Homo sapiens: one gene and its partners. The protein of the gene in region 5 interacts with the protein of the main gene of each other region in a pairwise test. Each region holds a gene or a part of one and is shown on either strand. Other genes may lie near its edges. The genes, in order: SLC44A2, ALDH1A3, SDC3, ST18 and TRPV2.

Region 1 (5,724 bases), on a different chromosome or scaffold from region 5:
CCGGGCATGGTGGTGTGCGCCTGTAATCCCAGATACTCGGGAGGCGAGGTAGGAAAATTGCTTGAACCCGGGAGGCAGAGATTGCAGTGAGCCGAGACTGCACCACTGCACGCCAGCCTGGGTGACAAAGCAAGACTCCGTCTCAACAACAACAACAAAACAACAACTCAAAAACAACAAAAATCCAAAATATGAAGCACTGTTTTGTTGAGCACGATATTGTGCCTCTGGATTCCACAGGCCTGAACTAAACAGGCCCCTACCCATATTTTATCTGCTCATTACCTCCTTGTCATTTAGTTTGCCAACTAGAAATATGAATTACCCTCATTTTATAGAGAAATAAATTGAAGCAGTCCGGGCGCGGTGGCTCCTGCCTGTAATCCTAGCACTTTGGGAGGCTGAAGCGGGCAGATCTCCTGAGGCCAGGAGGTCGAGACCAGCCTGACCAACATGGAGAAACCCCATCTCTACTAAAAATACGAAATCAGCCGGGCATGGAGGTGCATGCCTGTAATCCCAGCTACTTGGGAGGCTGAGGCAGGAGAATAGCTTGGACCCAGGAGGCGGAGGTTGCAGTGAGCCAAGATCGCGCCATGGCACTCCAGCCTGGGTGACAAGAACAGAACTCCGTCTCAAAAAAAAAAAAGAAAGAAATTGAAGCACAGTTAGGTTGAGGCACTTGCCCAAAGAATTGGCAAAGCCAGGATTTGAACCTCTGCTATTCTGATACCAGAGTATGCATCCTTAACTACGGTGCTGAGACATTTTTTCTTTTTTTTTTTTTTTTGAGATGGAGTTTCGCTCTTGTTGCCCAGGCTGGAGTGCAATGGCGTGATTTCGGCTCACCACAACCTCCGCCTCCCAGGTTCAAGCGATTCTCCTGCCTCAGCCTCCTGAGTAGCTGGGATTACAGGCATGCACCTCCATGCCCGGCTGATTTTGTATTTTTAGTAGAGACGGGGTTTCTCCATGTTGGTCAGGCTGGTCTTGAACTCCTGACCTCGGGTGATCTGCCTGCCTCGGCCTCCCAAAGTGCTGGGATTACAGGCGTGAGCCACCACGCCCGGCCTGACTTTTTTTTGTTTTCCTGATGGGCCATTTCCACGGGAAAGGGCAGGGCAGTGTGCGGATTCAGGAAAGAGAAGCCACAGGGAGGGGGTGACGCACCGTAGCCCAGCACCAGAATCACCATGATGATCATCACCCAGACCATAATACCAGCCAGGAAGCGAAGCAGGATGATGAACAGGAGGCTCATCGCCATGGCAATGACCAGGCCTCTGGGGAAAAGAAAACGGTCATGAACAGACTCCACCCTCAGCCAGGCTTAGAGGGGGCAGCCAGGGGAGAGGCCCCTTCCCTCCTGACTTACATGATAATCCAGTACCAAGAGACGGTGTAATCTTCAAATATGCGCATGGCGAGTTGCCGCGCCTCTAGGACTCCATTGGCTTTCCTGGGGGAAGGAGGACAAGGCTCGGGTCAGACCCTCTTCCATGATCAGGCCAACCACAGGGGATTGCCTGTCCCACCCAGCAAAGTGAGACCCTGGCGCGGTGCGCCAATATCCTCACTTGGCGCCCTCCACCAGGTCTGTGATGTTTTTCCGGGAGCCATGCCCATCCTCATAGGTCGTCTCATTGCCCACCATCAGGACACCCTTGTAGGCGTGGATAGCGGGGAAGCATCTCCGGGCCACTGCATGGAGCAGAGGATGGCACCAGTCAGGCTGAGCCTCTGCAGAGCCTCCCCGTCACCACCTGAGCCTCCTGGGATCCCCTGACTCACAGGGTTTGCTGGGGATGAGGACAGCAGGGCAGTCACCATCTTGAAGCACCTCAGCCACTCCCTGCCAAGAGAGATGGAGGGAGGTGAGTCCCCAAGTCTAGTACACTGCCACTGCCCATACCTGTGCTCTCAGGACAGTCTACAACTCACTTTATTGTTCTTGAAGCCAGGAACACAGAACTGCTTATAGTACTCAAAGTCCCGGGAGCTGCGAGCATTCAGGTACGTGAGGTAGCGGTCGGGGCATTTTTCCACGCAGATCTGGGAGGGGAGAAGGAAGGGATTGGGTGGAGTTGGGGCAGACTGCTCAGGACTGAGGTCGCAGCCCACATTCACAGGGGGAAAAGGATGGGAAGCGGGGAGAGGAAAAAGGGAACGGTGGGGACCAGGTTACCTGGGGAGTGGGACATTGGAATTCCAGCAGAACCAGGGGGCTGGCACATTTCACAATGTTGAAATAAAACAGATAGGGTTTGTTCCTGGAGTTAGAGAAGGGAGAATGGAAACTGTTAAGATTTTTTTTTTTTTTTGAGACAGAGTCTCGCTCTTGTTGCCCAGGATGGAGTGCAATGGTGTGATCTCGGCTCACTGCAACCTCCGCCTCCCGGGTTCAAGCAATTCTCCTGCCTCAGCCTCCCGAGTAGCTGGGATTACAGGTGCCCGCTACCAAGCCCGGCTAATTTTTGTATTTTTAGTAGAGATGGGGTTTCCACCATGTTGGCCAGGCTGGTCTCAAACTCCTGACCTCAGGTGATCCGCCTGCCTTGGCCTCCCAAAGTGTTGGTATTACAGGTGTAAGCCACCACACCCGACCTGTTAAGACTTCTTAACCACCCTATAGAAAACTTTTTTTATTTTTCTCTTTTTTTTTTTTTTAGATGGAGTCCTGCTCTGTTGCCTAGGCTGGAGTGCAATGGTGTGATGTGGGCTCACTACAACCTCCGCCTCCTGGGTTCAAGCAATTCTCCTGCCTCAGCCTCCCGAGTAGCTGGGACTACAGGTAGGTGCCCGCCACGATGCCCAGCTAATTTTTGTATTTTTAGTGGAGACGGGGTTTTGCCATGTTGGCCACACTGGTCTCGAACTCCTGACCTCAGGTGATCCACCCGCCTCAGCCTCCCAAAGTGTTGGGATTATATGCGTGAGCCACTGCGCCCGGCCTCTTTTGTTTTTTTTTCTTTTTTGAGACAAGAGTCTTTCTCTGTTGCCCAGACAGAGCGAGCAGTGGCACAATCTTGGCTCACTGCAGCCTCTACCTCCTAGGATCAAGTGATCCTCCACCTCATCCTCCTGAGCAGCTGAGACTACGGGTGTGCGCAACCACACCTGGCTAATTTTTTCTATTATTGGTAGCGACAGAATTTCACCATGTTGCCCAGGCTGGTGTCAAGCAATCCTCCAGTCTGGGCCTCCCTAAGTACTGGGATTACAGGCGTGAGCCACCGTGCCCGGCCTATTGTTTCCTTTAAGATATTTTATATGGCCGGGTGCAGTAACTCACACCTGTAATCCCAGCACTTTTGGAGGCCAAGGCAGGCGGATCACCTGAGGTCAGGAGTTCGAGACCAGCCTGGCCAACGTGGCGAAACCCCGTCTGTACTAAAAATACAAAAAATTAGCTGGGTGTGGTGGCGGGCACCTGTAATCCCAGCTACTTAGGAGGCTGAGGCAGGAGAATTGCTTGAACCTGGGTGGCGGAGGTTGCAGTGAGCCAAGATCGCACCATTGCACTCCAGCCTGGGCGACAGAGCGAGACTCTGTCTCAAAAAAAAAAAAAGATATCTTATATAGGGCCAGGCAGGGTGGCTCAGGCCTGTCTTGTGCCAGCACTTTGGAAGGCCCAGGTGGGAAGATCGCTTAAGCCCAGGAGTTCCAGGCTGTAGCGAGCTATGATCCTGCCACTGGCTGACAGAGTGAGACACTGTGTCAAAATAATAATAATAGTAATAATAATAATAGGCCGGGTGTGGTGGCTCACACCCGTAATACCAGCAGTTTGGGAAGCCAAGGCAGGCAGATAACCTGAGGTCAGGAGTTCGAGACCAGCCTGACCAATATGATGAAACCCCGTCTCTACTAAAAATACAAAAATTAGCTGGGCATGGTGGCATATGCCTGTAATCCCAGCAACTCGGGAGGCTGAGGCAGGAGAACCGCTTGAACCCGGGAGACGGAGGTTGCAGTGGGCTGAGATTGTGCCACTGCACTCTAGCCTGGGTAACAAGAGCAAAATTCCGTTTCAAAATAATAATAGTAATAATAATAATAATAATAGTTTAAAAACTGCAGCATCAGCAACTCTATGCCAGGTGCCATTCTTTTTTTTTTTTTTGAGATGGAGTCTTGCTCTGTTGCCTAGGCTGGAGTGCAGTGGCACGATCTCGGCTCATTGCAACCTCTGCCTCCCAGGTTCAAGCAATTCTCCTGCCTCAGCCTCCTGAGTAACCGGGATTACAGGAACATGCCACAATGCCCAGCTAATTTTTTTGTATTTTTAGTAGAGACGGGGTTTCACCATGTTGACTAGGCTGGTCTTGATCCTCCCACCTCAGCCTCCCAAAGTGTGCTGGGATTACAGGTGTGAGCCACCACGCCCAGCGATGCCAGGTGGCATTCTAAGCTCTGTACATGTATTGGCACATCTAACCATCAAAATAGCCCCATGAGGGTGGGACTGTTATGATCCTCATTTTAGAGATGAGGAAAACGAGGTTCAGAGAGATTGAGACACCTGCCCTAGGTCACAGAGCCAGGAAGTGACGCCACTCAGGCTATGCTTGCTCTGTTGTCTCACCTGTTCATCACCACCTGACGCGTAATCCAGGACTGTCCCCTCTCAGTCTCTCCCGCCCTTAAAATGTGTGCTGCCAGAGAACAGGATGCTTACTATCTCATTTAGAGCTGTGTGTCCCCAAGGACTAGACTAGTGGCTGAGGGTAGTGGGACGTTTATCAGTACTTGTTTTCTTTTCTTGTTGTTTTGTTGAGACCAGGTCTCGCTCTGTCGTCCAGGCTGGAGTGCAATGGTACAATCATACCTTACTGCAGCCTTGGCCTCCCAGCTCAAGCTATCCTCCCACCTCAGCCTGCTGGGTAGCTGGGACTAGAGGTGTGCCCCACCACGTCCACTTAATTTTTGCTTGTTTGTTTTGAGACAGAGTCTCACTCTGTGCCCCAGGCTAAAGTGCAGTGGCACGATCTCGGCTCATTGCAACTTCTGCCTCCTGTGGTTCAAGTGATTCTCCTGCCTCAGCCTCCTGAGTAGCTGGGATTACAGGCATGTGCCACCATGCCTGGCTAATTTGTGTATTTTTAGTGGAGACGGGGTTTTGCCATGTTGGCCAGGCTGGTCTCGAACTCCTAGCCTAAAGCAATATTCCTGCCTCGGCCTCCCAAAGTGTTGGAATTTCGGGCGTGAGTCACCGCGCCCAGCCTATAAGCACTTGTTAACTGGACTTAGAGAGATGGGGAATGCCTAGAATCTTCTGCCCCCTCTTCCCCAGCCCCACCAGGCCGCAAGGAGTCAACTCACTCGTTTTTTGTGCCCTTCTGCCCGCAGAACTCGCCCCGGCTGTCAGTGGGGTAGATCACCTTTCGAGGGTCTCCATGAGTCCAGGCTGTGGAAAGATCCAGGGATACTGAGACACTGCCACTCCTCAGATCCAGCCCTGTTCCCACTCCAGAGGCCATGGCTGCCTCCGCCTACCCTGCAACTCCAAGTCCTGCTCATTCTCTACTCACCTATGATGCCTACAGCCACGTAGCCCACAATGGCCAGGAGCAGGAACACACAGCATATGATATCCGTGCAGCCCCTGGGGAGCAGAGGGGCAGTGTTTGGAGGAGGCTTGGTGCTGTGTGCACCATGGGCCCATCTGCCCTCTGCAAACACCCTCATCCATGTGTTATTTGGACAAATTTTCCTGAGTCGTTT
Region 2 (5,724 bases), on a different chromosome or scaffold from region 5:
TCATCTTTTGACGTGACTGAAGTTTGGGTGTCATCTTTTGAGGTGACTGCAGTTTGGGTGTCATCTTTTGACGTGACTGCAGTTTGGGTGTCATCTTTTGAAGTGACTGCAGTTTCGGTGTCATCTTTTGAGGTGACTGCAGTTTGGGTGTCATCTTTTGAGGTGACTGCAGTTTGGGTGTCATCTTTTGACGTGACTGCAGTTTGGGTGTCATCTTTTGAGGTGACTGCAGTTTGGGTGTCATCTTTTGACGTGACTGCAGTTTGGGACCACGGCCATCAGTTATAGAGAACAGCAGATTGTCCCGCTGGCAGACAGGCTGCAAGCAGCAGCATGTTTTTCAATCACTTGAATGGCTGGGAGCGTTCAAGTGATTTTTTTTCTTCTTTACATCTTAATATTTCTACAGTGGCCAAATACCAATGTTTGTTTCTGATTATAAAAAGCATTTAAAAATATTTCCTAAAGAGTATTTTTCTCAGGGACCCAAGTACGGAAGGACTTTCCACTGGCTGCCTCAGTGTGAACGCACACGAGCCTGCTGTTCACAGATCAGGTGGGAAGTGTCTGCCTGGCATTTGATCCCAGCTGGGAACTTGTGGTCCAAGAGTGAGAATGGGGAAATTCCTTCCTTTCTGGATTGCAGAACTGACCATCGTGGAACAGTTCGCAGACAGGGAGGAGCATGAAGGCCGTTTTTCTCCCTTCAGCCTCACCCACCCCATGGGAGCAGAACTGGATCTTTTGTGCACTGATAGAATAATCACAACGGAACCTTCTTTCTAAAAGGAAAGAAGTGAGGGCCATTTAGAGTAGTGTCACTGTCTCTTTTTCTCAGGAAAATGGGCCACATTCATCTCGAAGGCCCCTCCATGCCTCTCTCTTTCTAGGAAGGTACAGCAGGGAGTGGATGTGGGACACCAGTCAGGAGTGACTCTACCGAGTCTCTGTGTGTCCAGAGCTGGCTTGGGGGTGAGCAGAAGCTTGGCAGGGGAGATGTGGGACACTGAATTTCTTCTCCCAGGCTCTGGGGTGGAGGCCAGGACCTTTCCAGCTGCAGAGGGTGTGGTGGCCTCTGGCTCAGAACAGTCACTCAGACCAAGGGAGAAATCAAGGCCCAGGGCAAGGGTCTCGTTCTCCTCCTAGCACCTGTACGGGGCACTTGGGAGTCTCCTAGTGGAAACCCCATTCCATGTCATGGCTTCCCCCCAATGCCCTCACATTTTTCTATGAGCTCCTCTGTGCCACTTTCTTTGTTAGCAGAGCCTAACTGTCATGAGGTGCCACACAGAGGGGGGTCTGTATAGGTGGGGCCAGTGTGCATTTGCACGTCTGTCACAAAAACTCATGGGCAAGATAAAATCCAAGCCTACTCTGCACACGCCCTTCACTGCATCCACTTCCAACGTCATCAGTTTGCTGACCAAGAACATCAGTCCAGCACTCCAGCAGCTAAGGAAACATTTACATCTCCCTGCCCTCAGTGGAAGGGCTTTACCTCTGCACTGACATTCAGAATAGATTTGATGGCCTTGCAATGTATAAAGGACACATTCGGAAGTCCCTTAGCTTCTGTATTACTATATAGACCTTGCACTTGCAAATAGAGTGATAAAGGTTACCGCTTTCCATGCTCATGTAAATTTCTAGGAGAAAAGAAATCTGGTGGTTACATTGTTAACTATCCCCGCATCACCCGGGTAGCAACTATTTTTTTTCCTTCAAAGTGTCTATTTTTTTCTAAAGTGTCTTCTGCCAGAAAGCTTCATTTCGTGAAACACACCAGCGGGAAATGCTTTCTGGAAAGATTCTTTAATGCCTCCAGGTCCAAATAATTGATAAAAAAAAAAAAAAAAGAAAAAAGAAAACCTTTCCTTTAGCCATATGATGAGGATAGCTGAGGTCATCCTCATAGTAGGAGAAACATCTATCAAGGGAGAATGATTCTCTGCAGAGGATCATCGGTAATTGATGCCATTCTGTGCCACACGTCTGAGAACCACATGCCAATTCACGCAGCTAGCCCAGGCCCTGCCCCCAGGATAGGCCAGTTCTGTCTTATAGCTAAGCCGAACCGTTTCCTTATCCTTTGGTCATCCATAATTGAATTACTTAGAGCAAATTTATTTTAAGTATTTACCTTATCTCCTTCTTCCACTTCACATATTTGCTCCCGAGTTGAAGGGTTACATGTAGCAAACTTTTTCCCACTCTTGGATTCGTGCCATTCATTGTTGATAAATATCTAACCAGGAAAGGAAGTGTAACCAATTAGGTTTAGATCAAAATCATATAATTTCAACATGCTAAGGACCTTAGGTGACGTCTTATCCATCTTGTCCACCTTCCTCTCTGCTGCTTCCCTCTCCCCTTCGACATCTTATAGATGAGACCCGGAGGGGAACAGAGTCCCAGGACTGCATGACCAACAGATCAACTAGGACAGACTCGAAATTCAAGTTTTGGTCAAATAAAACTATAGTCACTTAGAGATTTTTTTCTAAATTATTATTATTATCTTCAGCAATAACATGGATTCACAGAGGAATGGCTAAGTTAAATGGTTAAATAGAGGCTGTGAATGGAATCTCATACCCCAATAGACTTTGGGGGAAGAGTCAATAGGTTTATATACATAAAAGTCCCAAGCAGTCCGCCTGCCCCTGAAGGGTAAGGACGCACCGAGCACTCCCTTTCTCCTTTCAGTGGCAACACTCAGCAAGATTGATTGCCAAGGAGCTCACTTTGAGGAGGATCTCACCATCGCCCTTCAGTTTTCACCAATGCACATCAGCATGTCCCTCCCCAGCACATTCCCCTTAAAATGTGTATTTTCATAGCAAACCACCATGGCGCATGTTTACCTATGTCACAGACCTGCACATCCTGCACATGTACCCTAGAACTTAAAATAAAAGTTGATAAAATGTCAAAAAAAAAAAAAAACCCAGAAAAACCTCCGAAGCTTGATAATAAACCAGCGTTGAAGTACAAAGTTAAATGTCTGGGTTAGAAACTTTCCAGGTTACATTAAGAGATGTCGCAAATAACTGTTTATATAACCCGCAGAAATCACTTTTCTGGGAACCTCAATGATCCAGAATGCAGATGAGAATGAAAGTTTTTTTGACAAAAGACATCATGAGCAGACTAAGAAGAACATACGAAGTCCATGCACTGAAACATATGTACTATTTACTGTTAGTTTACACTAAGTTCTAATTGTCTTATTAATGTCATATTAAAAGAGAGGGCTTTTGGAAAAAACTAGGAAGAGACATGACAGACAATATACAAAACACATTCCGACAGCACGGAGGTCCCCGGCTGCCCAGCCAGAAGACACACAAACTCCTGCTACACCAACTTGGAATGGCTTCCTCATCACAGCCTATCACAGCATCAGAAGAACCCCCGTGGCAGAAATGGCTGACACGCATGTCTCTCAAGTAAAATGCCGTCAGTAATTTCTGAGTACAGAATTAGTTCATCAGGTTCCGTTTTTACATCTATCTGCATGTGGTATACATAGCTTTACTTTGCTTCTTTTTGAATTGTTTAAAGGAAGAATTGCGTCCCTCAAGGGCTAATTTCAATTATTGTGAAATTGATTCATTTGAAACATTTGACTCCCCAGTGATGACAGATGAGAGAGGGCAGCCATCTCCTAAGCATGAGTCTTGGTTACATTCTCTGTATTGGGCTTCCTGTATAAACTCCACAGCTCCGGCTTAATACCTGGGTGATGGGTTGATCCATGCAGCAAACCACCATGGCACATGTTTACCTATGTAACAAACCTGCACATCCTGCACATGTACCCCAGAACTTAAAAGTTGATAGAATGTTAAAAAAAAAAAAAACCCACAAAAACCTCTGAAGCTCATAGTGAGGAAGCCTGGTCTGAGTCGGTTGGGGACCAAGCACAGGAGGCAGACTCTGGCTGGGCAGGTGAGCAGAGACCAGCTGCCCCCCAGTTTGGAATCCAGAACTGAGAGCATCGGTCACCATTGGGATTTGCCTGTCTGGCTTCTGGAAGCTTAGCGTCTCCAATGTGAGGCCAGGCCCCCAGGGAAGCGCACCAGGAAAAGGCCAGGCTACAATTACAGGTTTATTCTTCCAGCTGAAACTAAATCCAAGAGTTCACTTTTGCCATCCAGCAAGTCATCACTTGGTAACAGCGAGAAATTAATAACTGAGGAAGAAGAGTTAAGTTAGTGCGGGGAGGAAAGTGCAGCCAGGAAGAGGGGCCCATTTGTAGAAAGATGAAATTTCGTGGGTTAGATAATAGAGACTGTCAGTGAAAATTGCTGATTCTAGGTCCTTCCTGGTATCAACTCCAAGGGGGAGGGAAAATGAGAAGGTGGCAGAAGAGAATATAAATAAGGGGGCTGAAAACAGATTACAATGATCGGATGTCTGCTATACTGCTATACTTCATCTCCAAGCATGCTCCTCCAAAAAAAATTACTGTTTGTTCATGACATTGATCTGTAACCAGCAACCTTAAAAAAAAATCAGACTGTTTGACTCTAACCATATTTTCCCATCACTATGTTTTTAATTTTGTAAAATCTTTTACTTTATACCACACTACAGTAGTAAGTAATCTTGTAAGTGGTTTCTACTGTTGATTTTTCTCTCCATTAAAACAAAACAAAAGCACAAATATAAGGAAAGGGTATATAAATATGGTCTACTGATTATGCTGGCTGTATTGTTTTGAACTCCAAATCAGGGTAAAGGGTCTAGAAGGAATTGTTGTCTTTGATTTGTGGATTAGCATACAACAAACCTTATAGAGGTATAGCATTAAGCTACATTGAGCTGTAGACCTGGTTCACATTTTACAAAAGGAACAGAATGACATGGAAGCAGGACGGAGCTGTAAGGTGTCTCAGGCAGAGGTGAAGATGACAGTCATACAAGTGAATCCTATTGATGCCGATTTCCCGTAACTTCCATCTGACAACAGGCCACTCAGCTAAACTCAAAAAGAATATGTTTTCAGAAAAGGAGATTTGGGGGAATTTTATTTTTCATAAGAGAGATAATAAAAACCGGTGTTTTAAAAATCAGAAAACTTTGAAGAGAATCCCTGCTACTGGAAGAAATTTTATAAGGAAAGAAAGAGGCCCTCTAAATTAGAAGGGACTTCTATCCTCTGAGATCTGTGTGGGGACCCTGGAGGGGCTCTCAGCTCTCCAGAATCACACAGCATGACCCTAGAGAATGAAATGTTAACATGTGAGGACAAATGAAGGGGCTTTGACAAAGTCATCCTGAAAGTTGGACCACCCTGGGAAATGGCACTGCCGGGGCTAGGGCTCAGATGGACCAACTCTGGTGTGTGCCCCATTATCGAGAAGCACCATGAGTCAATTTTGGAAAATAGCAGACCACTGCTGGCTCCCATGCTCCACCGTCTGCTCTCCTGCCAGGCCACCCACCTGCCGGGCCACTCGCCCACTCTGGGCCTCAGTCCTGCACTTCAGTTTATCCCGCTCCTTCCCTCGGCAGGCACTCTTGGTGGCCTCACTCTCGGCCGCCTCTCCAGTCCAGTCTCCCTGAGGACTGTGCCAGGGCACTGGTTGGCCACCCTCAGCCACACAAGCTGCCTGGGTCCACAACTGCTATGGGGAGGTCTCTGCAGAGATGGGCCAGGAGCCAGGACAGAGCAGGCAGCAGCACAGTCCCCCAACGGGTGAGGAGCCAGCAGCCGGT
Region 3 (5,724 bases), on a different chromosome or scaffold from region 5:
ACTCAGGTAGCGCTCACCTACATACTATTCATCCCCAGCTCAGTAGCCATCGACATGACAACCGTTACCATGACGACCATCTTCTCCATGCTAACGACCAGGAGCTGCAGCTCCCCACAGAGATGGGGTGGTACAGGAGAGGGAGAGATCACGGGGGAACTGAGAGGATGACAGGGAAGGGGGAGGCAGAGACAGAGACGGTGACAGAGAGTCGAGGACTGAGGGAGGCCAGGGGGCAGAGGGGCAGAGACGGGGAGGGTGGGCTGGGGGTACGAGAGAAGGAGAGAAGGCAAGGGTGGGAGGCAGAGGGGAGAACTCACACATCCTAATTTAGCCTCATGCTGATGAGGCAAGGCTGGGGAAGGGGCCACCTCAGTAATTTTCCAAACCTGCTTCCAAGAGTACATTCTTTCCGAACAGCAAGCATCCCCAATGGCAGGGTGTGCAGGGGGAGGAACGGCCCAGTCACCCCTGAGCCCACCTGGGATGCTCAGCGGGAACTTAATGCGAGGACACCTGGGACCTGCAGGCATGGGCGCTGGGACTCATGAGGCCCTCTCAGGAACACTACAGAGGGGGTGCTGGTAGCTGCAACTCCCAGAGGGGACAGAGAAATAGGGGTTGGGGAACGGAGCCTGGGAGGCAGCAGGGAAAGCCTTAGAAGTCACAGAATGCCTGAGGAGGAGGGTGACAAGCAGGCTTTGACCCCCAAACGACCTCCGCATTTGCATAATCCATCATAATAAGCATAATTATCCATGCCATTCCCTTAAAGGAGAACTGAATCCAAAAGCCCCAGGACGCTGCCAGCTTCTCCTTGACCCTCACTGTGCCCCCTCCAGGTAAACACAACCCCCCCATGCCTGATAGGAGGCTTCCATACCCCCAAGACACGCGCGCACGCATGCACACACACACACACACACACACACACGACAGCCCAACATCCTCATGCATATATATTCTTCTGCATGTACTATGCACCCCAATGGATACACACACACACTATTAAGTGCAATGTTTGCCCACACCAATCTGTATACTCACCACAGCCTATAGGCAATACAGCCCAGCCCACACCAGCACACACTCACCCATCTACTTCACCCCTAGCTGCCTGTACACATGCCCTAGGGTACTCACAGACACACACACACACTCCTCTCCTCACCACACACCCCACGGATGCCCCCGAGAAACCTCAGCACATTCTCCTGACCCCACGCACCACACTCACCTCACCAAGGCCCACAACACGGACCCACCGCCATGGCCACGTATGTTCCCTAAACACACATCGCTCCTAGACATCACCCTCGGCAGGTGCATCCTCTGACTCAGACATGAACCTCACAACTCGGATACAACCTTTCCTCTCGGCTGCACCCCCCACACACAGCGAGCGTGCCCGGTGGAAGCACTGAACCTTCTGCTTCCGGCCACCACTGATCTCGGGAGGGGACACCCAGCAGAGGCTCCGCAAGCGGCCCATGAAGGCCTGAGCATCAGGTCCCAGGGGAGCCGCTGAGCGTTCCCAGGGCACTCTAGAGACCTCTGCCTGCTGCTGCTGAGGGCCTGCCCCAGGCCAGGTGCTGGGAGCATGTTATTTATGCAGCCTCCTTTAAGCATCACAACTGCCCAGGGTTTTATCATCCCCATTCCACAGATGCAGGAACTGAGGCAGGGGTTAGAATCCAGGCATGAGGCCTCTGTCTCTGAAACCCTTGTCCTGGACATTCCTGAGCCACCCCCAGACCCATTGCTTGTCCAGGGCTAAATTCATACATCTGTGCCCCGCAGCTGCCCTCACCCCCTGCATGACATCAACTCGGCAATGCCCACAGCTGTCCATGCCCACCCAACATCCACACCCACGCGCCAGCACACGATGGTGATAAGACTATGCAGCTCATAGCATTGCAGGAGAAGGGGCTGAGCACGGGACCCAACACACCAGGCACTCCCAACACCCTGCCTCCACATGTGCGCAGCCTACTTGTCCCTCCCTGAACCTGCCCCAGCAGACATACATCCCGCCTCACATGCCATTAACAGGTCCACAATACCTGCATCTCAGTTCCCTCCACACACACATGCGCGCAAACACGCACTTTCCTTCCGGGTACACACAAGTGCACACACACATCGGGATGAAATGTGGCACCCTTCCTAGTGGACTGATGCCCCCTGCTTCCATTTTTCCTCACAGTCCCCTAGTCACCACACCTTCCTGAAGTAACCCACAGCCTCACTCCACAGAGGCACCTCAGGCTCCCAGCCCAGAAGGGACCAGGCCCAGCAGTGACCCACAGGCCCCCTCACTCCACATCCACTCCCACCGATCCTCTCCTAGAGTTTTAGAGCAGCAGCTGGGGAGGCTCCCCTGGGCCAGGGGCAAGGAGGTGCCACCTCCCAGGTTGCCCAGCCCCCTCCCTCCCAGGAGCACCCCATCAGGGCTGTGATGGGTGAGGGTCCAAATGAGCTGGATGTCAGCTAAGTCTCCTCACTTTCACGGCTACCTCTACCCACCCACTCATCACTCACTCTGAGTGCAGGGGACACGTTCAGGAAGGCCAGTGCATCCCTCCCACCCCATCCTCTCTCAGAGCCCACTCCAGAATTTGGGGTCTCTCGTGCCCAGCCCCACACCACCATGAGCCTTCCTAGAGAAACCGGTCAGCACAGAGGCAAAGCATAATGAACCAGCTCCTCTTTACTACCCGGTTGGCTGTCAGGCAAGCCATTTAATCTCAGCACCTCAGTTTTCTCATCTGTAAAATGGAGATGATGAGAAGACTACGCAGCTCATAGCATTGCTGTGGGAAGGGGCTAAGCACAGGACCCGACACCAAGTGAAAAATGAATAAATCAGTGTAGCCACGATTGCTGTTAGTTTATGTTAAAATTTCTATTATTATTTCGAAGCCTTTATCTCATGTAAGCCTCAACCTCCTCATGAGGGAAGCCAAATTGGGATGACTACACCCAGGCAGATGAGACGATTAATGCCCGGAGAGGTTAAGTGGCATTGCCAAGGCCACACAGCAGGGGAGAGTGCAGAGAGAGACAAAAAGAGAGAGGTTGGATGAAGGGGGAGAAAGGGCAAGTTACAGAAACAGACACAAGCACACAAATTAGGTCAGCAGGCTGGGGGCCAGGAGCCCGGCACCCCTGTGCAGCGCTAATCATGTTGCAAAAAGCCAAGAATAAAATCGAGTGTAATTAGTTCTGCCCGAGCTTCCTTCCCCTAATTAGCCAGACTCAGGCCTCACTTTCCTGGTGACCAGAGGCGACATGAGCAAGGGGTGGGGGCCCAGCTTTAGGTTCTGACAGTCTTGGATTCAAATTCAGCTCTGCTTACTTGCTGGGTGACTTTGGATGTGTTACTTAACCTCTCTGAGCCTGTTTGGTTAAATGAGGCCAACAATGATACTTCATAGGGCAGTTGTGAGAATCAAGTGAGATCATGCCTGCACACAGTCGGAGCCGTATAAGGCTTTGTCTATATTCCTACAGCCTGCACTTCCCACCTCAGGCTGCAACTTCAAGGCTACACTGGGCCTGAGGGATCACTGAGTTCAACTCTCCCCTTTTACCGATGTGGAAACTGAGGCACAGAGAGGGGAAAGCCTTGCTTATCACGAAAGGAGGGGGCGGGGTTAGTCTGCCACGAAGCATTCAGAGAGGTAAAGTGATTTGCCCAAAGACACACAGCGACGTAACTACTAGCTCCTCGAGGCAGGGAGGGAGGGTGTCTCAGCATGGCCCTCTGGATCCCTGCAGGCTCCGTCCCCAAAAAGCCCTCAGTCCTGTGAGAACTCAGTGCCCCTCACGCTCACCAGATCCACCCCGGAGACCCAGAGCATCACCGCAGGAATGTGGGCTGGGGCCAAGCTCCGGGCAGCAAGACAGCCAAGGGGGCTGCACAATTGGGAGCCGGGACCAGGAGGGGGATGTCTCAGTCCCCACCCCCACCCAGCCACAGCTGCCCTGGCCAGGAAGCCGGCAGTCCCACACCCACTTGTGGCTGGAGATGAGGGGCACGAGGACTGCACCTGCTGGGGAAGGGGCTATGGAGCCCAAGTCCCAGAGAGCAGAAGCCCGGGGAGGAGTGGAATGGGGAGGGCAGAGAAGGCCAAGCTGAAACACCACAGACCCCCCCCAAGAAAAATCCACCAAGCCCAGACACACACCCTCCCACTCGCCCCAACTCACACACTCAAGCCTCTCACAAACCAAACCTATCCCCACCCCCTACTCCCATCTACAAAGGCAGCTCAGAGGGCAGGAAATGTTCCCTTTGGGCCTGTCCCATCCCAGTCAACTCCTCTGCAAAGATATCATGGCAGCAGAGCCCTCCCTACCCCAAGCCTGTATCTCTCCTGTCACCTCCAGTCTGCCCTCTACCCAGCCCTGTGTTCCCACCATCCCCCCAGGATGCCCTTTTTCCCACTGTGGCACCTGCCTCCACCCACATCCCCACCCCAGCCCCAACAGGAGAGCAGGTAGCAGCCCTGGCTCAGGCGCCCACAGCCTCCAAGACCGTGGACAAATCCTCTTCCCCCTTCTCTGCCTTTCCTTTGCCCCATTTGCAAAATGGAAAACCAAGCATGGTGGTCTAAGGGCCTTTCTGATTCTGACACTCTGGACTCCCAAGAATTTGATCCTTAGGTCAAGGAGATCCAGGACAATGTAATTTACGAGAGGGAAAAAATGGAAATAACCCACATACTGAACGACAGGGGACGAGTTAAATAAATGAGGGTACAACCATAACATGGAATATTACGCAGCTATCAACAATTGAGTTCTCACAAATCTACACTGTCTAATGAGGTTATTAAAAGACATAAATGTGTCATAGAAGGCTTTTTTTTACTTGCTACAAGGAATATTGAAGGATGTAGGAAAATGCACATATTGATCATCAGAAGACAAGACAGTATAGCTGTTGATAGGAATATGCAGATGGCTCTCTCAATTCCGATGTGACTTTGGGCAGATATTTAACTCTCTCAGGCTGCTTTAACTGGTAAAACAAAGATAAGAATGCCCACCTCGTGGGGTTTACAGAAGGAGGCTGGGCATGTTCACCCATTAACAAATTGCTCAGTAAATGCTGGCTATTAATATGAGTATCATCATTATGTTTAAAAAATAGGTTACAAAAAATATGTAGAACTTGATCCTGTTTTAATGAACTCACTATCAAAGTGAATTTCCAAATGCTGCATTATAACTAAAGGTTCCCAGAGGCTCTCTCTGGGTGGTGGGATTACAGGCAGCTTTAATTTCTTCTCAGGACCTTTCTGTATTTTCCACAATTTCTCCGATAAACCCATAGCACTTTTGTTATTAGAGAGCGCACATCCTCCCTGAGTCTCCATCCCTGGTGTTCTCTGGTCTGTGAAACTTCCGGGTCCCCTGGTTCTGCTGAGACCCCATTGAGACTGTTCGTGAGGGACCTTACGAGGAAACTGAAAAGGGGGGTGGAAAGGAAATGAACACAAAAGCCTCTGAGGGAGCTGGCAGGGCCCACGGCCCAACCGAGTCTCACCACAGACAGGCTGGCTTGGCAGGACCTGGCTCCCTCCCCTGGCATCAGCCTGTCTGGCGGCCACCTTGGCCTGTGGTGCCCAGACACCCACCCGCCCGCCTTCTCCCATCAGCCCTGTTCCTGGCTCAGCCGGGCTGGCCAGTCTCTGTTGAGGTGCAGACTGGCTG
Region 4 (5,724 bases), on a different chromosome or scaffold from region 5:
TCATGGAGTTATTTTCCTTCATTCTGCCAATGTGATGTATCACATTGATTTGTGTATGTTAAACCAAACATGCACGCCAGCAATAAACTTGGTCATGATGTATAATCTTTTTGATGCATTGCTGAATTGAGTTTGCTAATATTTTGTTGAGGATTTTTGTATTAACATTCATCAGAGAGACTGGCCTGTAGTTTTCTTTTTCTGTGGTGTCTTTGTCTGGCTTAGGTATCAAGGTAATAATGCCCTCATAAAATGCGTTAGGAAGTATTGTCTGTATCTCTATTTTTGGAAGAATAGAAGAATTATTGGTAATAATTCTTCTTTGAATGTTTGATAGAATTCAGCTCTGAAGCCAACTGGTCCTGGGCTTTTTTGGTTGGAAGGTTTTTAACTACTTCTTTATTCTCTTGATTTGTTATTGGTAAATTCAAGCTTTCTATTTCTTCCTGATTCAATCTTGGTAGGTTATATTTTTCTATAAATTTATTCATCTCCTCTAGGTTATACCATTTATTGGCATACAATTGTTCAGAATAGTTCCTTATGATCCTTTTTATTTCTGATGTGTCTGTTGTAATGTCTCCACTTTCATTAGTGATTTTATTTGTTTGAGTCTTGTCTCTTTTATTTCTTAGTCTAGCTAGAGGACTATTGATTCTGTTTATTTTTTTCAAGGAGCCAATTCTTTGTTTTATGAATTTTATCTATGGTTTTTCTGTTTTTTATTTATTTCTGTTCTGATCTTTATTATTTCTCTCCTGCTAACTTTAGGTTTCAGTTGTTACTCTTTTTTTTTTAGCTCCTTGAGGCATATTGTTAGGCTATTTATTTGGGATCTTTCTTCTTTTTTAATGTAGGCATGTATTGCTATAAACTTGCCTCTTAGTACTATTGTTGTTGCAGTTCATAGGTTTTCGTAGGTTATGTTTCCATTGTCATTTTTCTCCAGATATTTTTAAATTTCCTTTTGACTTCTTCTTTAACCCATTTGTTGCTCAGGAACATGTTTAATCTCCACATATTTGCGAATTTTTCAAGATTCCTCCTGTTGTCGACTTCTAGTTTCATACTGTTGTGGTTGGAAAAAAATGGTACATATAATTTCAATCTTCTATGGGACTGACATAGGGGCTTTCCTGAAGAATGTTCTATGTGCACTAGAAAAGAATGTTTATTCTGCTGCTATTAGATTGAAAGTTCCATATATGTCTGTTAGGTCCATTTGGCCTAAAGTGAAGCTCAAATCCAGTGTTTCCTTATTAATTTTATGTCTGATTGATCTATCCATTGATGAAAGGGGGGTGTTGAAGTCCCCAGCTATTATTGTATTGCTATCTAGTTCTTCATTCATGTCCATCAATATTTGCTTTATATACTTAGGTATTCCAATGCTGGGTGCATATATATTTCCAATTGTTTTGTCTTCTTAATAGGTTAGCCCTTTTACCATTACATAATGACCTTCTTTGCTCTTACAACAGTTTTTAACTTGAAGTCTATTTATCTGCTATAAACAGCCATCTCTGCTCTTTCAGTTACTATTTGCATGGAATATCTTTTTTCACTCCCTTCACTTTCAGCCTGTGTATGTCCCTAAAGCTACAATGGGTCTCTTGTAGGCAGCATAAAGTTGGATGTTGGGTTTTTATTCATTTAGACACCCTCTGCCTTTTGATTGGAAAGTTTAATCCATTTACATTCAGTTATTATTGATAATAGTTACTATTGATAGGTATTGACTTAACTCTTGCCATTTTGTTAATTGTTTTCGGTTGTTTTGTAGATTCTTTTTCCTTTCTTCCTCTTTTGTTGTCTGCCTTTGTGATTTGTTGATTTTCTGTAGTGCTAAGCTTTGATTCCCTTTTCTTCCTTATTTGTGTATTTGTTATAGTTTTTTGCTTTGTGTACCATGGGGCTTACATAAAACATCTTATAGTTATAATTGATTATTATAAGATGATAACTACTTAACTTTGATCACATAAAAATACTCTAGACTTTTAACCTCTCCCCTGTCATCCACAATTTATGTTTTTGTTGTCACAATTTACATATTTTTATATCGCATATTTCTTAGCAACTTAATGTAGCCACAGTTATTTTTGACCATTTTGATGTTTAACCTTCATACTAGAGAGTTGAAAGATTTACACGCCACCACTACAGTAATTACATATTCTGAATTTGACAATAAATGTACCTCTACTGGCGAGTTTTATATTGTCATATGTTTTCATGATAGTAATCATCATCCTTTTGTTTCTGGTTAAACAATTCCCCTAAATATTTCTTATAAGGCAGGTCTAGTAGTGATAAATTTTCTTAGCTTTTGCTTCTCTGGCAAAGACTTTATTTCTCCTTTATTTTTGAAAGTCAGCACTACTAAGTGTAATATTCTTGGCTGACAGGTTTTTTTTCTTTCAGCACTTTTAAGTATATTTCTCCCTTCTCTTCTGGCTTGCAAGGTTTCTGCTGATAAATCTGCTGACAGTCTAATGGAGATTTCCTGATATGTCATTTGACATTTTTCTCTTGCTGCTTTTTAAATTCTCTCTGTGTCTTTGATTTCTGACATTTTTATTGTAATATGACTTGGTGGGGCCCTCTTTGGGTTGAACCTGTTTGGAGATCATTAAGCTTCATAAATCTGCATGTCCATTTTCTCCCAAGACTTGAGAATTTTTCAGCAACTCATTTGTTAAATAAGTTTTCCATGCCTTTCCCCTTCTTCTCCCTCTAACAACCCCATATTTAAATATTTTGTCACTTAATGAGTGTCTTATAAATCCCATAGGCTTTCCTCACTCTTTTTTCCTCCTGACTAGGTTATTTCAAAAGACTTCTTTTCAAGTTCAGAGATTCTTTCTTCTGCTTGATCTAGTCTGCTGTTGAAGCTGTCAATTTTAAAATTTTATTCATGGAGTTATTCAGCTATAAGATTTCTGTTTGGTTAGTTTTTATGATAGCTATCTCTTTGTGGACTTTCTCATTCAGATCATGAATTGTTTTCCTAATTTTGTTGCATTGTCTATCTGTATTCTCTTGTTTCCTTAAAATTATTAGGTTTAATTCCTTTTTAAGCAATTTCAATTTCTTTGTGGCCAGTTACTAGGGAATTATGGTCTTCCTTTTGTGGTGTCATGTTTCCTTGCTTTTTCATATTTCTTATGTCCCTATGTTGATGCCTGTGCATCCAGTGGAACAGTTGCCTCTTCTAATTTTATAGAGGGCTTTCATAGGGAAAGACTTTCGCCTGTAGATGAGTCCTAGAGTGTCAGGTCAGCAGAGTACTTGGCTCTGCTTCTGAGTGGGTGCAGTAATGTAGTCTCTGTGCAGCTTCTTCAGCTGTGATTAATATCAGCAATGACTGCAAGTACCTCAGTGTCTTCGGCTGTAGGAGTTTGTGGCAGTGGTGGTGGCATGGTAGTTTGTTAGGGTTCTTGGCAGCAAGGGCATTAGGGGTTCTCCTGTTGTCATTTTCCCCACAGTGGGCACACTTAGCTGAGGGGATCCCTGTTATTATCAGGTGTGACATGGGCCACAGGCAGCCATAGCATCACTGTGTTCAAGGGCACATGTGATTGGAATGGCTGTAGAACTGGGGTCCTGGGCTCAGTGTCTTGTTGAACTACTGTGGCACCTGTGATGTGGGCACAGGTCCATTCTCTGAGGCACAGGTGGATGCAGGTCTCCCACCAAGCCAAGGACTGTGACTCTAAGGCATTTCCCAGTAGCTTGGGCCCAGGGTTCAAGGATGTAGCTGTGACTCTAATCCTGGAGATCAGGGCACAGCATTGACATGGCTCCAGGGAAGAAGGGGTGTTCTAGACGCTCAGTCCCCAGAGAGCAGGCGACAGCTGCAATTCAGGTCTTAGAACCAATAGGGCACAGTGGCAACTCAGGCATCAGAAGTGGGGGTACTGCATAGTGATGACTATGGTCCCAGAGCAGTGGGATACAGCAGTAGGTCAGTCTCTGTGACGCCAGGTGCAGTGGCAGCAAGGACCCAAGAACAGTGGAGCACAGTTACTGCTTGGGCTCTGGGAAGCAGGTGCCACTTCTGGAGTCAATTCAGACTCCAGAGGGCTGGCCCAGACCCAGGAAGGTGGGGCACGGCAGCTGTTCAGCCCAGGGGTGGGGCAGCACAGCTCAGCCAAGGCTGTTTCTCTGGGGGCCAGTATACCACATCAGCTCAGCACTATGGGGTGTGGCTGCTCTGCTGGGCTGGGATCCAGGAACCTGAAGAGCACACTGCCATAAGGGCTTGGATACCAGGGATGTAACTGCTCCCCTAGACCAAAGTTCCAACTTCCTGGGGGTGGGACATTGGGCTGGTTCAGGCACTGAAGTGCATGCCTGCTCCACTGGGCCTTGGGTCCAAGTAGCTGGGGCTGGGGCACAGTAGCAACTTGGATGGGGGAAATGGGGTGGCTTCTAGGTAGCTTGTTCCCAGGGGGTATGGAGTTGCTGCAGCTCAGTTGGGGAATGTTGCACTACCATGTTTGAAAGCATGGTGCAATGGTGGCCAGGCCTCAGGGATAAACAGATACAGTGGCTACTGGACCCCCAAGCAGGACACACTCTAGCAGTGGCTCTGGTTTCCAGATGGCACAGTGCAGTAGCAGCTTGGCCTACAAGAGTTGAGGCACAATGTGGGCTCCTTCTTTGGAGCAGTGCAGCTATGTGAACTCCAGGCAGCTCCCCAAGCTGAGCTCAGGGACCTTGAGGACTGTAGAATTCTCCAGTGGTGAAGACTGCTGGTGTCCACAATGGTAATAGGGGCTGCTGGGTACCTCCTGCTTACCTTTTCCCCCCAGGAAGGAGTCCTTCCTGGTTCTGAGCTGAATAAGAGAATGGGGTGGCACAGGTGGGGTGGCAAGGGTGTGGCATGATTCCTCCTCTTCTGTATGAGCCCATACTTAGTGTTTGTGCTCCACTGGATTTCTGCCACTCCTGCTGTACTCCCGCACTCTTCTTCAGCCACTGTGGTCAAAATGTAGTTGTTTATTCATTGTTTATTCATTTTTTGTGGGGGTAGTCCAGGAAATGGGTGTTGGGCACTTTTAGTCAGCCATCTTGCTGATATCACTCCTCTCTAACTCTTAATATGATTGTAAGTAACTTAAACATCAGCAAAATTAATCATGCCTTGGTAAATTACAAACTATAAAGTAAAAAGAACAGAAACACTGGTGATCAGTTACCAGGCTTTTCCCTCCTAGCAGATACCAAACCTGGTCACTGATGGAAAGGGCTTCTGGTCTAACATTTGATGTAAATCTTCTAGTGGCTACCATTATATCTAAACAGCATAATAGTTTGATTTTTGGTTTGGCTACCAGATAAATCACACTGATTATCAATTCTGAATAAGATCTATTGCCGCCTTGCCATGAACAATGAAAAATAGTAAACATTTATGACAATCTCATAAAGGATAGTAATGCTGAAAGAAAGCTTTCTAAGCCACCATTAATTAAAAATAAATAAATTTGATTAACCACATTAGAAAAAGATTGGATTAGCTTTCCATTCTTTCTGTATAAAATATTATAAGAGCATTGTCAATAAAGGGCTTTTGAGAGAATTAAACGAGACAGCACATTCAAAGCACTGAGACCCATCCTGCACAGAGAAGGGCTCAGGTATTTGTTGGGAGAATTAATGACAAGCACTGCTGAGACAGAAGGAGTCGGGGCAGAGGGGCATTTCCAGGCCCAGGAG
Region 5 (5,724 bases):
CATGCTACAACATGGCTGATCCTTGAGGACATTATACTGAGTAAAATAAGCCAGACATTAAAGGACAAATACTGTATGATTCCACTTCTACGATGTAGCTATGGTCATCAAATTCGTAGAAACAGAAATTAGAATGGTGGCTTCCAGGGACTGGGGGAAGGGAATGGGGAGTTGTTTAATGGGTGTTGAGTTTCAGTTTGGGATGACAAGAAAGTTCTGGAGTTGGATGGTGGTGATGGTTATACAACAGTGTGAATGTACTTAATGACACTTAGCTGTATACTTTAAAAAAAAAAGGTTAAAATGGGCCAGGCGCAGTAGCTCATGCCTGTAATCCCAGCACTTTGGGAGGCCAAGGCAGGCGGATCACCTGAGGTCAGGAGTTTGAGACCAGCCTGGCCAACGTGGTGAAAACCTGTCTCTACTAAAAATACAAAAATTAGCCGGGCATGGTGGTGGGTGCCTGCAACCCCAGCCATACGGGAGGCTGAGGCAGGAGAATCGCTTGAACCCAGGAGTAGGGGTTTGCAGTGAGCTGAGATGGTGCCATTGCACTCTAGCCTAGGTAACAAGAGTGAGACTCCATCTCAAAGAAAAAAAAAAAAGTTCCATGTTAGGTGTATTTTACTACAATTAAAAAAAAAAAAGCCTCTGGGGACCTCCAAATCCCTCCCCGTGGAAGGGGCCCCTGGCCCTTCCCTTCCTCCCAACCTCCTCACCTCCACCCTCCTGCCATCTCCCCAGCCACCTAGCCTCCTCACCCTGTCCCAAGCACCCCAAGCTCCTTCTGGCTCGTGGCAGCCACTGCTGTGCCCTCTGCTGAGAATATCTCCTCTTCACCCTGCTGTGGCTGAATCATTCTTTCAGGTCTCAACTTAAACATCCCCTCTTTAGAGAGGCTTCCCAGACCATCCCATCTAAAGGGTACTTGGTCCCAGCCATTCTGCATCACATTGTCCTGTGCTTTTTTTTCCTTCATAGAATTTAGCAGTGTGGAATGTTCTCAGTTGTTTTCTTAAGGTTTTCATTTCCTCCCACCAGAACATCAGCTTCAGGGGAGCAAGGACTTGTTCTGTTCTCTGCTATATTCCCAACACCTAGAACAGGGCCCGGCCCACAGTAGGCACTCCCTAAACATGCGCTGAATACATAAATGAATGCAGTTACATGCCCGCGCCCACACATCGCAGGACACAGACATGCAGATGAGCTTATGCACATATTCTTTGCTCCTTGCTTGTGGAAGGATGCACATGCTCCCGTGTGGACACCTGCAAACACACATATGTACGTTTGTTTGCGTGTGCATGCAGAGCCCTGAGAGAGGTATGTGCAGGCCTGTACTTAAGCTTCCATCCAGCAAGCATCTGAGTGCTGGCGCACAGGCAGATGTACACATGCCCTCCTCTGCCTAGGATAGCTGTGGAGGAAGGCTCTTCTTGCCTGATGAGGCCAAAAGAGTCCCGGTGGGCCACCCCCTTCTCTCACCTTCTGGATCATGACACTGTAGATGCCTGTGTGCTGGAAGCCACGTGTATAGTAAAGCAGGTTCAGCCAGCCCAGCACCAGCGCAGACACAAGCAGGGGCAGGTACCACTCGATGGCCAGGAAACACAGCACCTGGGACACCACTGTGAGCAGGGCCTGGAACAGGCTGTGTGGGAGCAGAATCCAGGTGGGCTTGCGGGCCACTTGGCTCCCTGAGCCCCCACTGGCCTATGCTGACCAAGGTCCTGACCTCCATCTTAGGCAAGACATTTAACCTCTGTGGGCCTCAGTTCCCTCCCACTGTAAAATGGGCATAATAATAATGATGCCTGACTCATAGAGTGTTTTCAAGGACTAAGTGAAACAGGTATGTGCCGAGGCCTAGTAAATGTCACTATCACCATCTACAGTGATGGGAGCACAAGGGGCCCCAGGCTGGACGGCAGCCCAGACTCCTGGGACTGGCCTGTACACAGATCCCGACTTCCTGGGCCCCGTGTCCTCGCCTCTAAAGCCAACCTGGTGCCTTCTGCCACAACTGCCCCTTCCAGACCTCAGAGACAGTTGAGAGAAGGAGGAGTGAGAACCCACGTACAAGAGGATTTCAAAGTAGCTGTCTATGAACGAGATCCAGATGAACACGTGGCGCCGCCAGAAGTACCACAGCTGCGGAGGAAGGGAGGACAGAGGGCTGTGAAACCTGCTCTCCCGCATGCCCCCTGCTGGCCTGGCTGAGTGGGAGCCTGCCACCCAGGCTAGAGCTAAGTCAGCAGCTTTGGTTTTGGGGGACTCATGAATACTTCTGATAGCTGAGATAGCTTGGGACTTTCTTTCCAGAAAGAGCAGCCACCTAGGCAAGGCCGGGGGGTGCAGGTGAAGAGCCTGTGCACTGCATGCAGGAAGGGGAAGAGCACCTTTCCCTTCCCTTCTCCCTGGCCTCACAGGGAGCACCCATACCCCAGCCAACCTGCGTTTGGTGCCCAAGTTCTGCCCACTCTGCGGAGGTCCCAATGTCTTGGTGTCCAGCCTGTGTCCTGCAGGCTTACAGCATTTCCCACTGAAGAGGCCCTACTGGGGGAAATAGCCTGAACCCCACCTACCTCTGGTCTCTGTGCTCCCCAAGAGGGGAGCTTCCCAGCCGAGGGGCCTGGCTAGGGGCAGGCGCTTCCAGCTCCATTCCTGGGGGAGCAGAGTCTGTACTGCCAAGGAATCAGAGAAGCTATCTGCTACCCCAAGGAACCCCAAAAGCACAGCAGAGGGGTTCCTGGGGACTCAGAAGGCAAGGCCAGAACCTCTGGCCCTCAGCTTCAGTGAGGCTGGTTGCTCTGGGTGGGACTGGGTATTGTCAGTGAGGGGATGCAGCTAACTTTCTCTAAGCCCCCTGAAGCAGAATTCTAGGTTTGCTTCTTGGTAGGAGAAGGGGAGGGGCACTCACCTGGCCCACGAGGAGGTAGATCCCCCCTAGCAGGATAAGGATGTGGCCCGTCAGCAGCATGGAGTTTCCAACCTCCGCTTTCAGGTGAGGGGCGGCCTGCTGAAGACACACTCAGATGAGACCTAGGGCCTTGGGTCCTCTCTCGAACAGCTCACCCTTCAGAGCTGAAGCTGAGGGCCTACTCTGAGCCTGAGCTGTGGAGAGGCTCCTCAGAACGGCATGGGAACATGGGCTCCAGGGAAGGACCCCTGGATCCTGAGAGGCACATTGTGTAGCATTTCAGTGTAGGGTCTGAAGCCAGACTCCCTGGATTCAGATTCCCTCTCCACACCACTTCCATTCTGTGTGACCCTGGGCAAGTTACTTAACCTCTCTGTGCCTCCCTTCCCTCTACTATAAACTGGGGGTGATTATAATTCACCATCTCAAGGGTTTTGGGGCACATTAATTAGTCAACACATGTCCATCACCTAGAATCCTTTTTCACATACAGTGAGCACTCAGCAAATCTTCACTGTATCACCGTTAGTACTGCAGTGCTGGCTCCCATAAGCTTGGGAATGTCACTCCAGCAGCCCATGCCTCAGCACTATTACTGCCCCATCTTCCCCCAGGGTTGTTTCAAGCAGGCCTCCCCCAAGATGTGCCCCCCCAAACCTCACGCCCTTGCCTTCTTCAGGGTAGGCTGATGGTAGGCAACAGCGGTGAAGATGAACATGTAGATCAGATTACACAGGAAGTTTAAGAAGAACTTGGGGATGAGCAGATCCCATTTCGCCTGCAGCAGTTTGTTCAGGGGCTCCAAAACGACCATTCGGTGTCGGTGCTGGGGTGGGGAGGGGAGAGCCATGGGTACACTCAACAAGTGCAAATAGGCTGCCCACTCCATGTCAAGATCAAAGCAAGGGCCCAGGAAATGAGGAGAGAGGACAGGGAGCAGGCTTCCACACCCCAGGAGCCCCAAAGGACCTCACGCCAACCCTCCCAGCTACAGTGTGACTAAGGGGCTTGCCCTCCAAATGAGATGCTGGTTAACAGAGAGGACCCGGATGGTTGCCACGAGGCCCTTGGCATGATCCCCGTCTTGGATGGGACTAGAGTATGGATTGAGTATGGGCCCGGTGGCCATGGTCAGGGTCGTGCCTGCTGGGACATGCAGCCACACCCCCACTGGCACAGGAATGGGGCAGATATGGTCCAGCAGGCAGCCCCAATTTGTGGACCTTGCTGGAAACTCTGCTGGGTCCTCTGCGTGCACCCATGCTCCTGTGGGCTCACCGGGCTCTTGCAATGAAAGGCAATGATCTCCAGCACTGAGTTCTCCTCACAGCTGTCCACAGAAGCCAGGTCATACAGCGACACCCGGACAGGCCCATAGCACCACTCGGTGAACTTTCGGGAAAGGTGGCTCAGTCCTGAAAACTCCCGCTGCAGGATGTGCCTGAAAATCTGCAGGGTGGCCATATGAGCTTGCATTCATGGTCCCTTCCTGGCACTGATCCTGGGCCAAGGCTGGGAAACACCCAGGACTCAGCAGCTGCCCACGGTCTGCAGAGCTGCAGCTGACACGTGCACGTACCCCCATACACGCAGGTCCTTGTTTGTCTAAACTCTTAAACACACACACGCACCCAGCCACATCTGCCCCAGCCTGCCAGCCAGCCTGGCTCTTCCTTCCCCTCCCCTGCCCTGTGGCCTTCCTTGAACTCCTCAAATGGCAGATTGATCCCTAGCCCTGGGGTCCTTGAGGCCCCTGAGATCAGAGTCTACTAGCTGTATCTGTGTGTGCACTTTCGCGGTCAGAATCTAGAATTTTCAACAGACTAGAAAGTGGTCCCTAATCCAAACAGGTTAGGAAGCAGTCTGGTTTCACGCGTGAGGAATGGGAAAGGAGGAACAGATCAGGACACTGCTTTCATAGGCCACACAGCAGTGCCTCTAGACAAGAAAGTGAGGTTCACACACCCCAGGGAGCACTCCAAAAAACTTGGGAGGGCAGCGAAAAAGGGTTAAAACTTCTATTTATGTTTATCGTTTCCTTAATCTTTCAAAAATCTCCACTGTAAGCCCATGAGGCCAGCCCTGGTGAGCTATTGGCAAAAGCTATTTGGAACAGGCCATTGGTAAGCTATCTGGAACAAAGTGGGGGCTGCCTCATGTTTACTCTTCCTACCAGAATAACTTCCAGCTAGTCAAAGCTCTAGGCATTAAAAATGCAGCTGCAGGCTGGGCGTTTCGGCTCATGCCTGTAATCTCAGCACTTTGGGAGGCTGAGGCAGGTGGATCACCAGAGGTCGGGAGTTTGAGACCAGCCTGACCAACATGGAGAAACCCCGTCTCTACTAAAAATACAAAATTAGCCGGGCGTGGTGGCACATGCCTGTAATCCCAGCTACTCGGGAGGCTGAGGCAAGAGAATCGCTTGAACTCCGGAGGCGGAGGTTGCAGTTAGCCGAGATCGCGCCATTGTACTCCAGCCTGGGCAACAAGAGCGAAACTCCATCTCAAAAAAAAAAAAAAAAAAATGCAGCTGCAAAAGTTTGGAAGAAAATATGGGTATGAAGATTATATATATACTATATATAATTATAATGTATAATATAATGTATAATAGTTATAACATATATTATGTACATATAATATGTATTATATATATAAAATCTTGTAGCAGGAATTAGACAATAGCAAAACCATGGAACCTTAAAGGAAAAGATAGTCACACTTGCAGATTATAAAAATTTTTAAATCCTGTATAGCAAAAAAAACATAAAATTCAAAAGACAAATGATGAACTAGGAGAA

Evidence for each region.
Region 1: the proteins of TRPV2 (region 5) and SLC44A2 interact in a protein complementation assay, tested with the Homo sapiens proteins (one study listed by IntAct).
Region 2: the proteins of TRPV2 (region 5) and ALDH1A3 interact in a protein complementation assay, tested with the Homo sapiens proteins (one study listed by IntAct).
Region 3: the proteins of TRPV2 (region 5) and SDC3 interact in a protein complementation assay, tested with the Homo sapiens proteins (one study listed by IntAct).
Region 4: the proteins of TRPV2 (region 5) and ST18 interact in a protein complementation assay, tested with the Homo sapiens proteins (one study listed by IntAct).

The regions. Positions count from the first base shown.
Region 1 is NC_000019.10:10,627,603-10,633,326, reverse strand, and holds part of SLC44A2 (choline transporter-like protein 2), read right to left. Parts: intron 5,606-5,724; coding exon 5,532-5,605; intron 5,408-5,531; coding exon 5,323-5,407; intron 2,271-5,322; coding exon 2,186-2,270; intron 2,053-2,185; coding exon 1,942-2,052; intron 1,853-1,941; coding exon 1,792-1,852; intron 1,702-1,791; coding exon 1,578-1,701; intron 1,460-1,577; coding exon 1,376-1,459; intron 1,284-1,375; coding exon 1,171-1,283; intron 1-1,170.
Region 2 is NC_000015.10:100,881,788-100,887,511, reverse strand, and holds part of ALDH1A3 (retinaldehyde dehydrogenase 3), read right to left. Parts: intron 2,246-5,724; coding exon 2,141-2,245; intron 1-2,140. UniProt on the Homo sapiens protein: Catalyzes the NAD-dependent oxidation of aldehyde substrates, such as all-trans-retinal and all-trans-13,14-dihydroretinal, to their corresponding carboxylic acids, all-trans-retinoate and all-trans-13,14-dihydroretinoate, respectively.
Region 3 is NC_000001.11:30,880,121-30,885,844, forward strand, and holds part of SDC3 (syndecan-3), read right to left. Parts: intron 1-5,724. UniProt on the Homo sapiens protein: Cell surface proteoglycan that may bear heparan sulfate. May have a role in the organization of cell shape by affecting the actin cytoskeleton, possibly by transferring signals from the cell surface in a sugar-dependent mechanism.
Region 4 is NC_000008.11:52,398,704-52,404,427, forward strand, and holds part of ST18 (suppression of tumorigenicity 18 protein), read right to left. Parts: exon of another isoform or gene 4,998-5,724; intron 1-4,997. UniProt on the Homo sapiens protein: Repressor that binds to DNA sequences containing a bipartite element consisting of a direct repeat of the sequence 5'-AAAGTTT-3' separated by 2-9 nucleotides. Represses basal transcription activity from target promoters.
Region 5 is NC_000017.11:16,424,747-16,430,470, reverse strand, and holds part of TRPV2 (transient receptor potential cation channel subfamily V member 2), read right to left. Parts: intron 4,373-5,724; coding exon 4,202-4,372; intron 3,750-4,201; coding exon 3,594-3,749; coding exon of another isoform or gene 3,582-3,593; exon of another isoform or gene 3,581-3,581; intron 3,023-3,580; coding exon 2,924-3,022; intron 2,155-2,923; coding exon 2,084-2,154; intron 1,655-2,083; coding exon 1,489-1,654; intron 1,272-1,488; coding exon of another isoform or gene 1,212-1,271; exon of another isoform or gene 152-1,211; intron 1-151. UniProt on the Homo sapiens protein: Calcium-permeable, non-selective cation channel with an outward rectification. Seems to be regulated, at least in part, by IGF1, PDGF and neuropeptide head activator. May transduce physical stimuli in mast cells.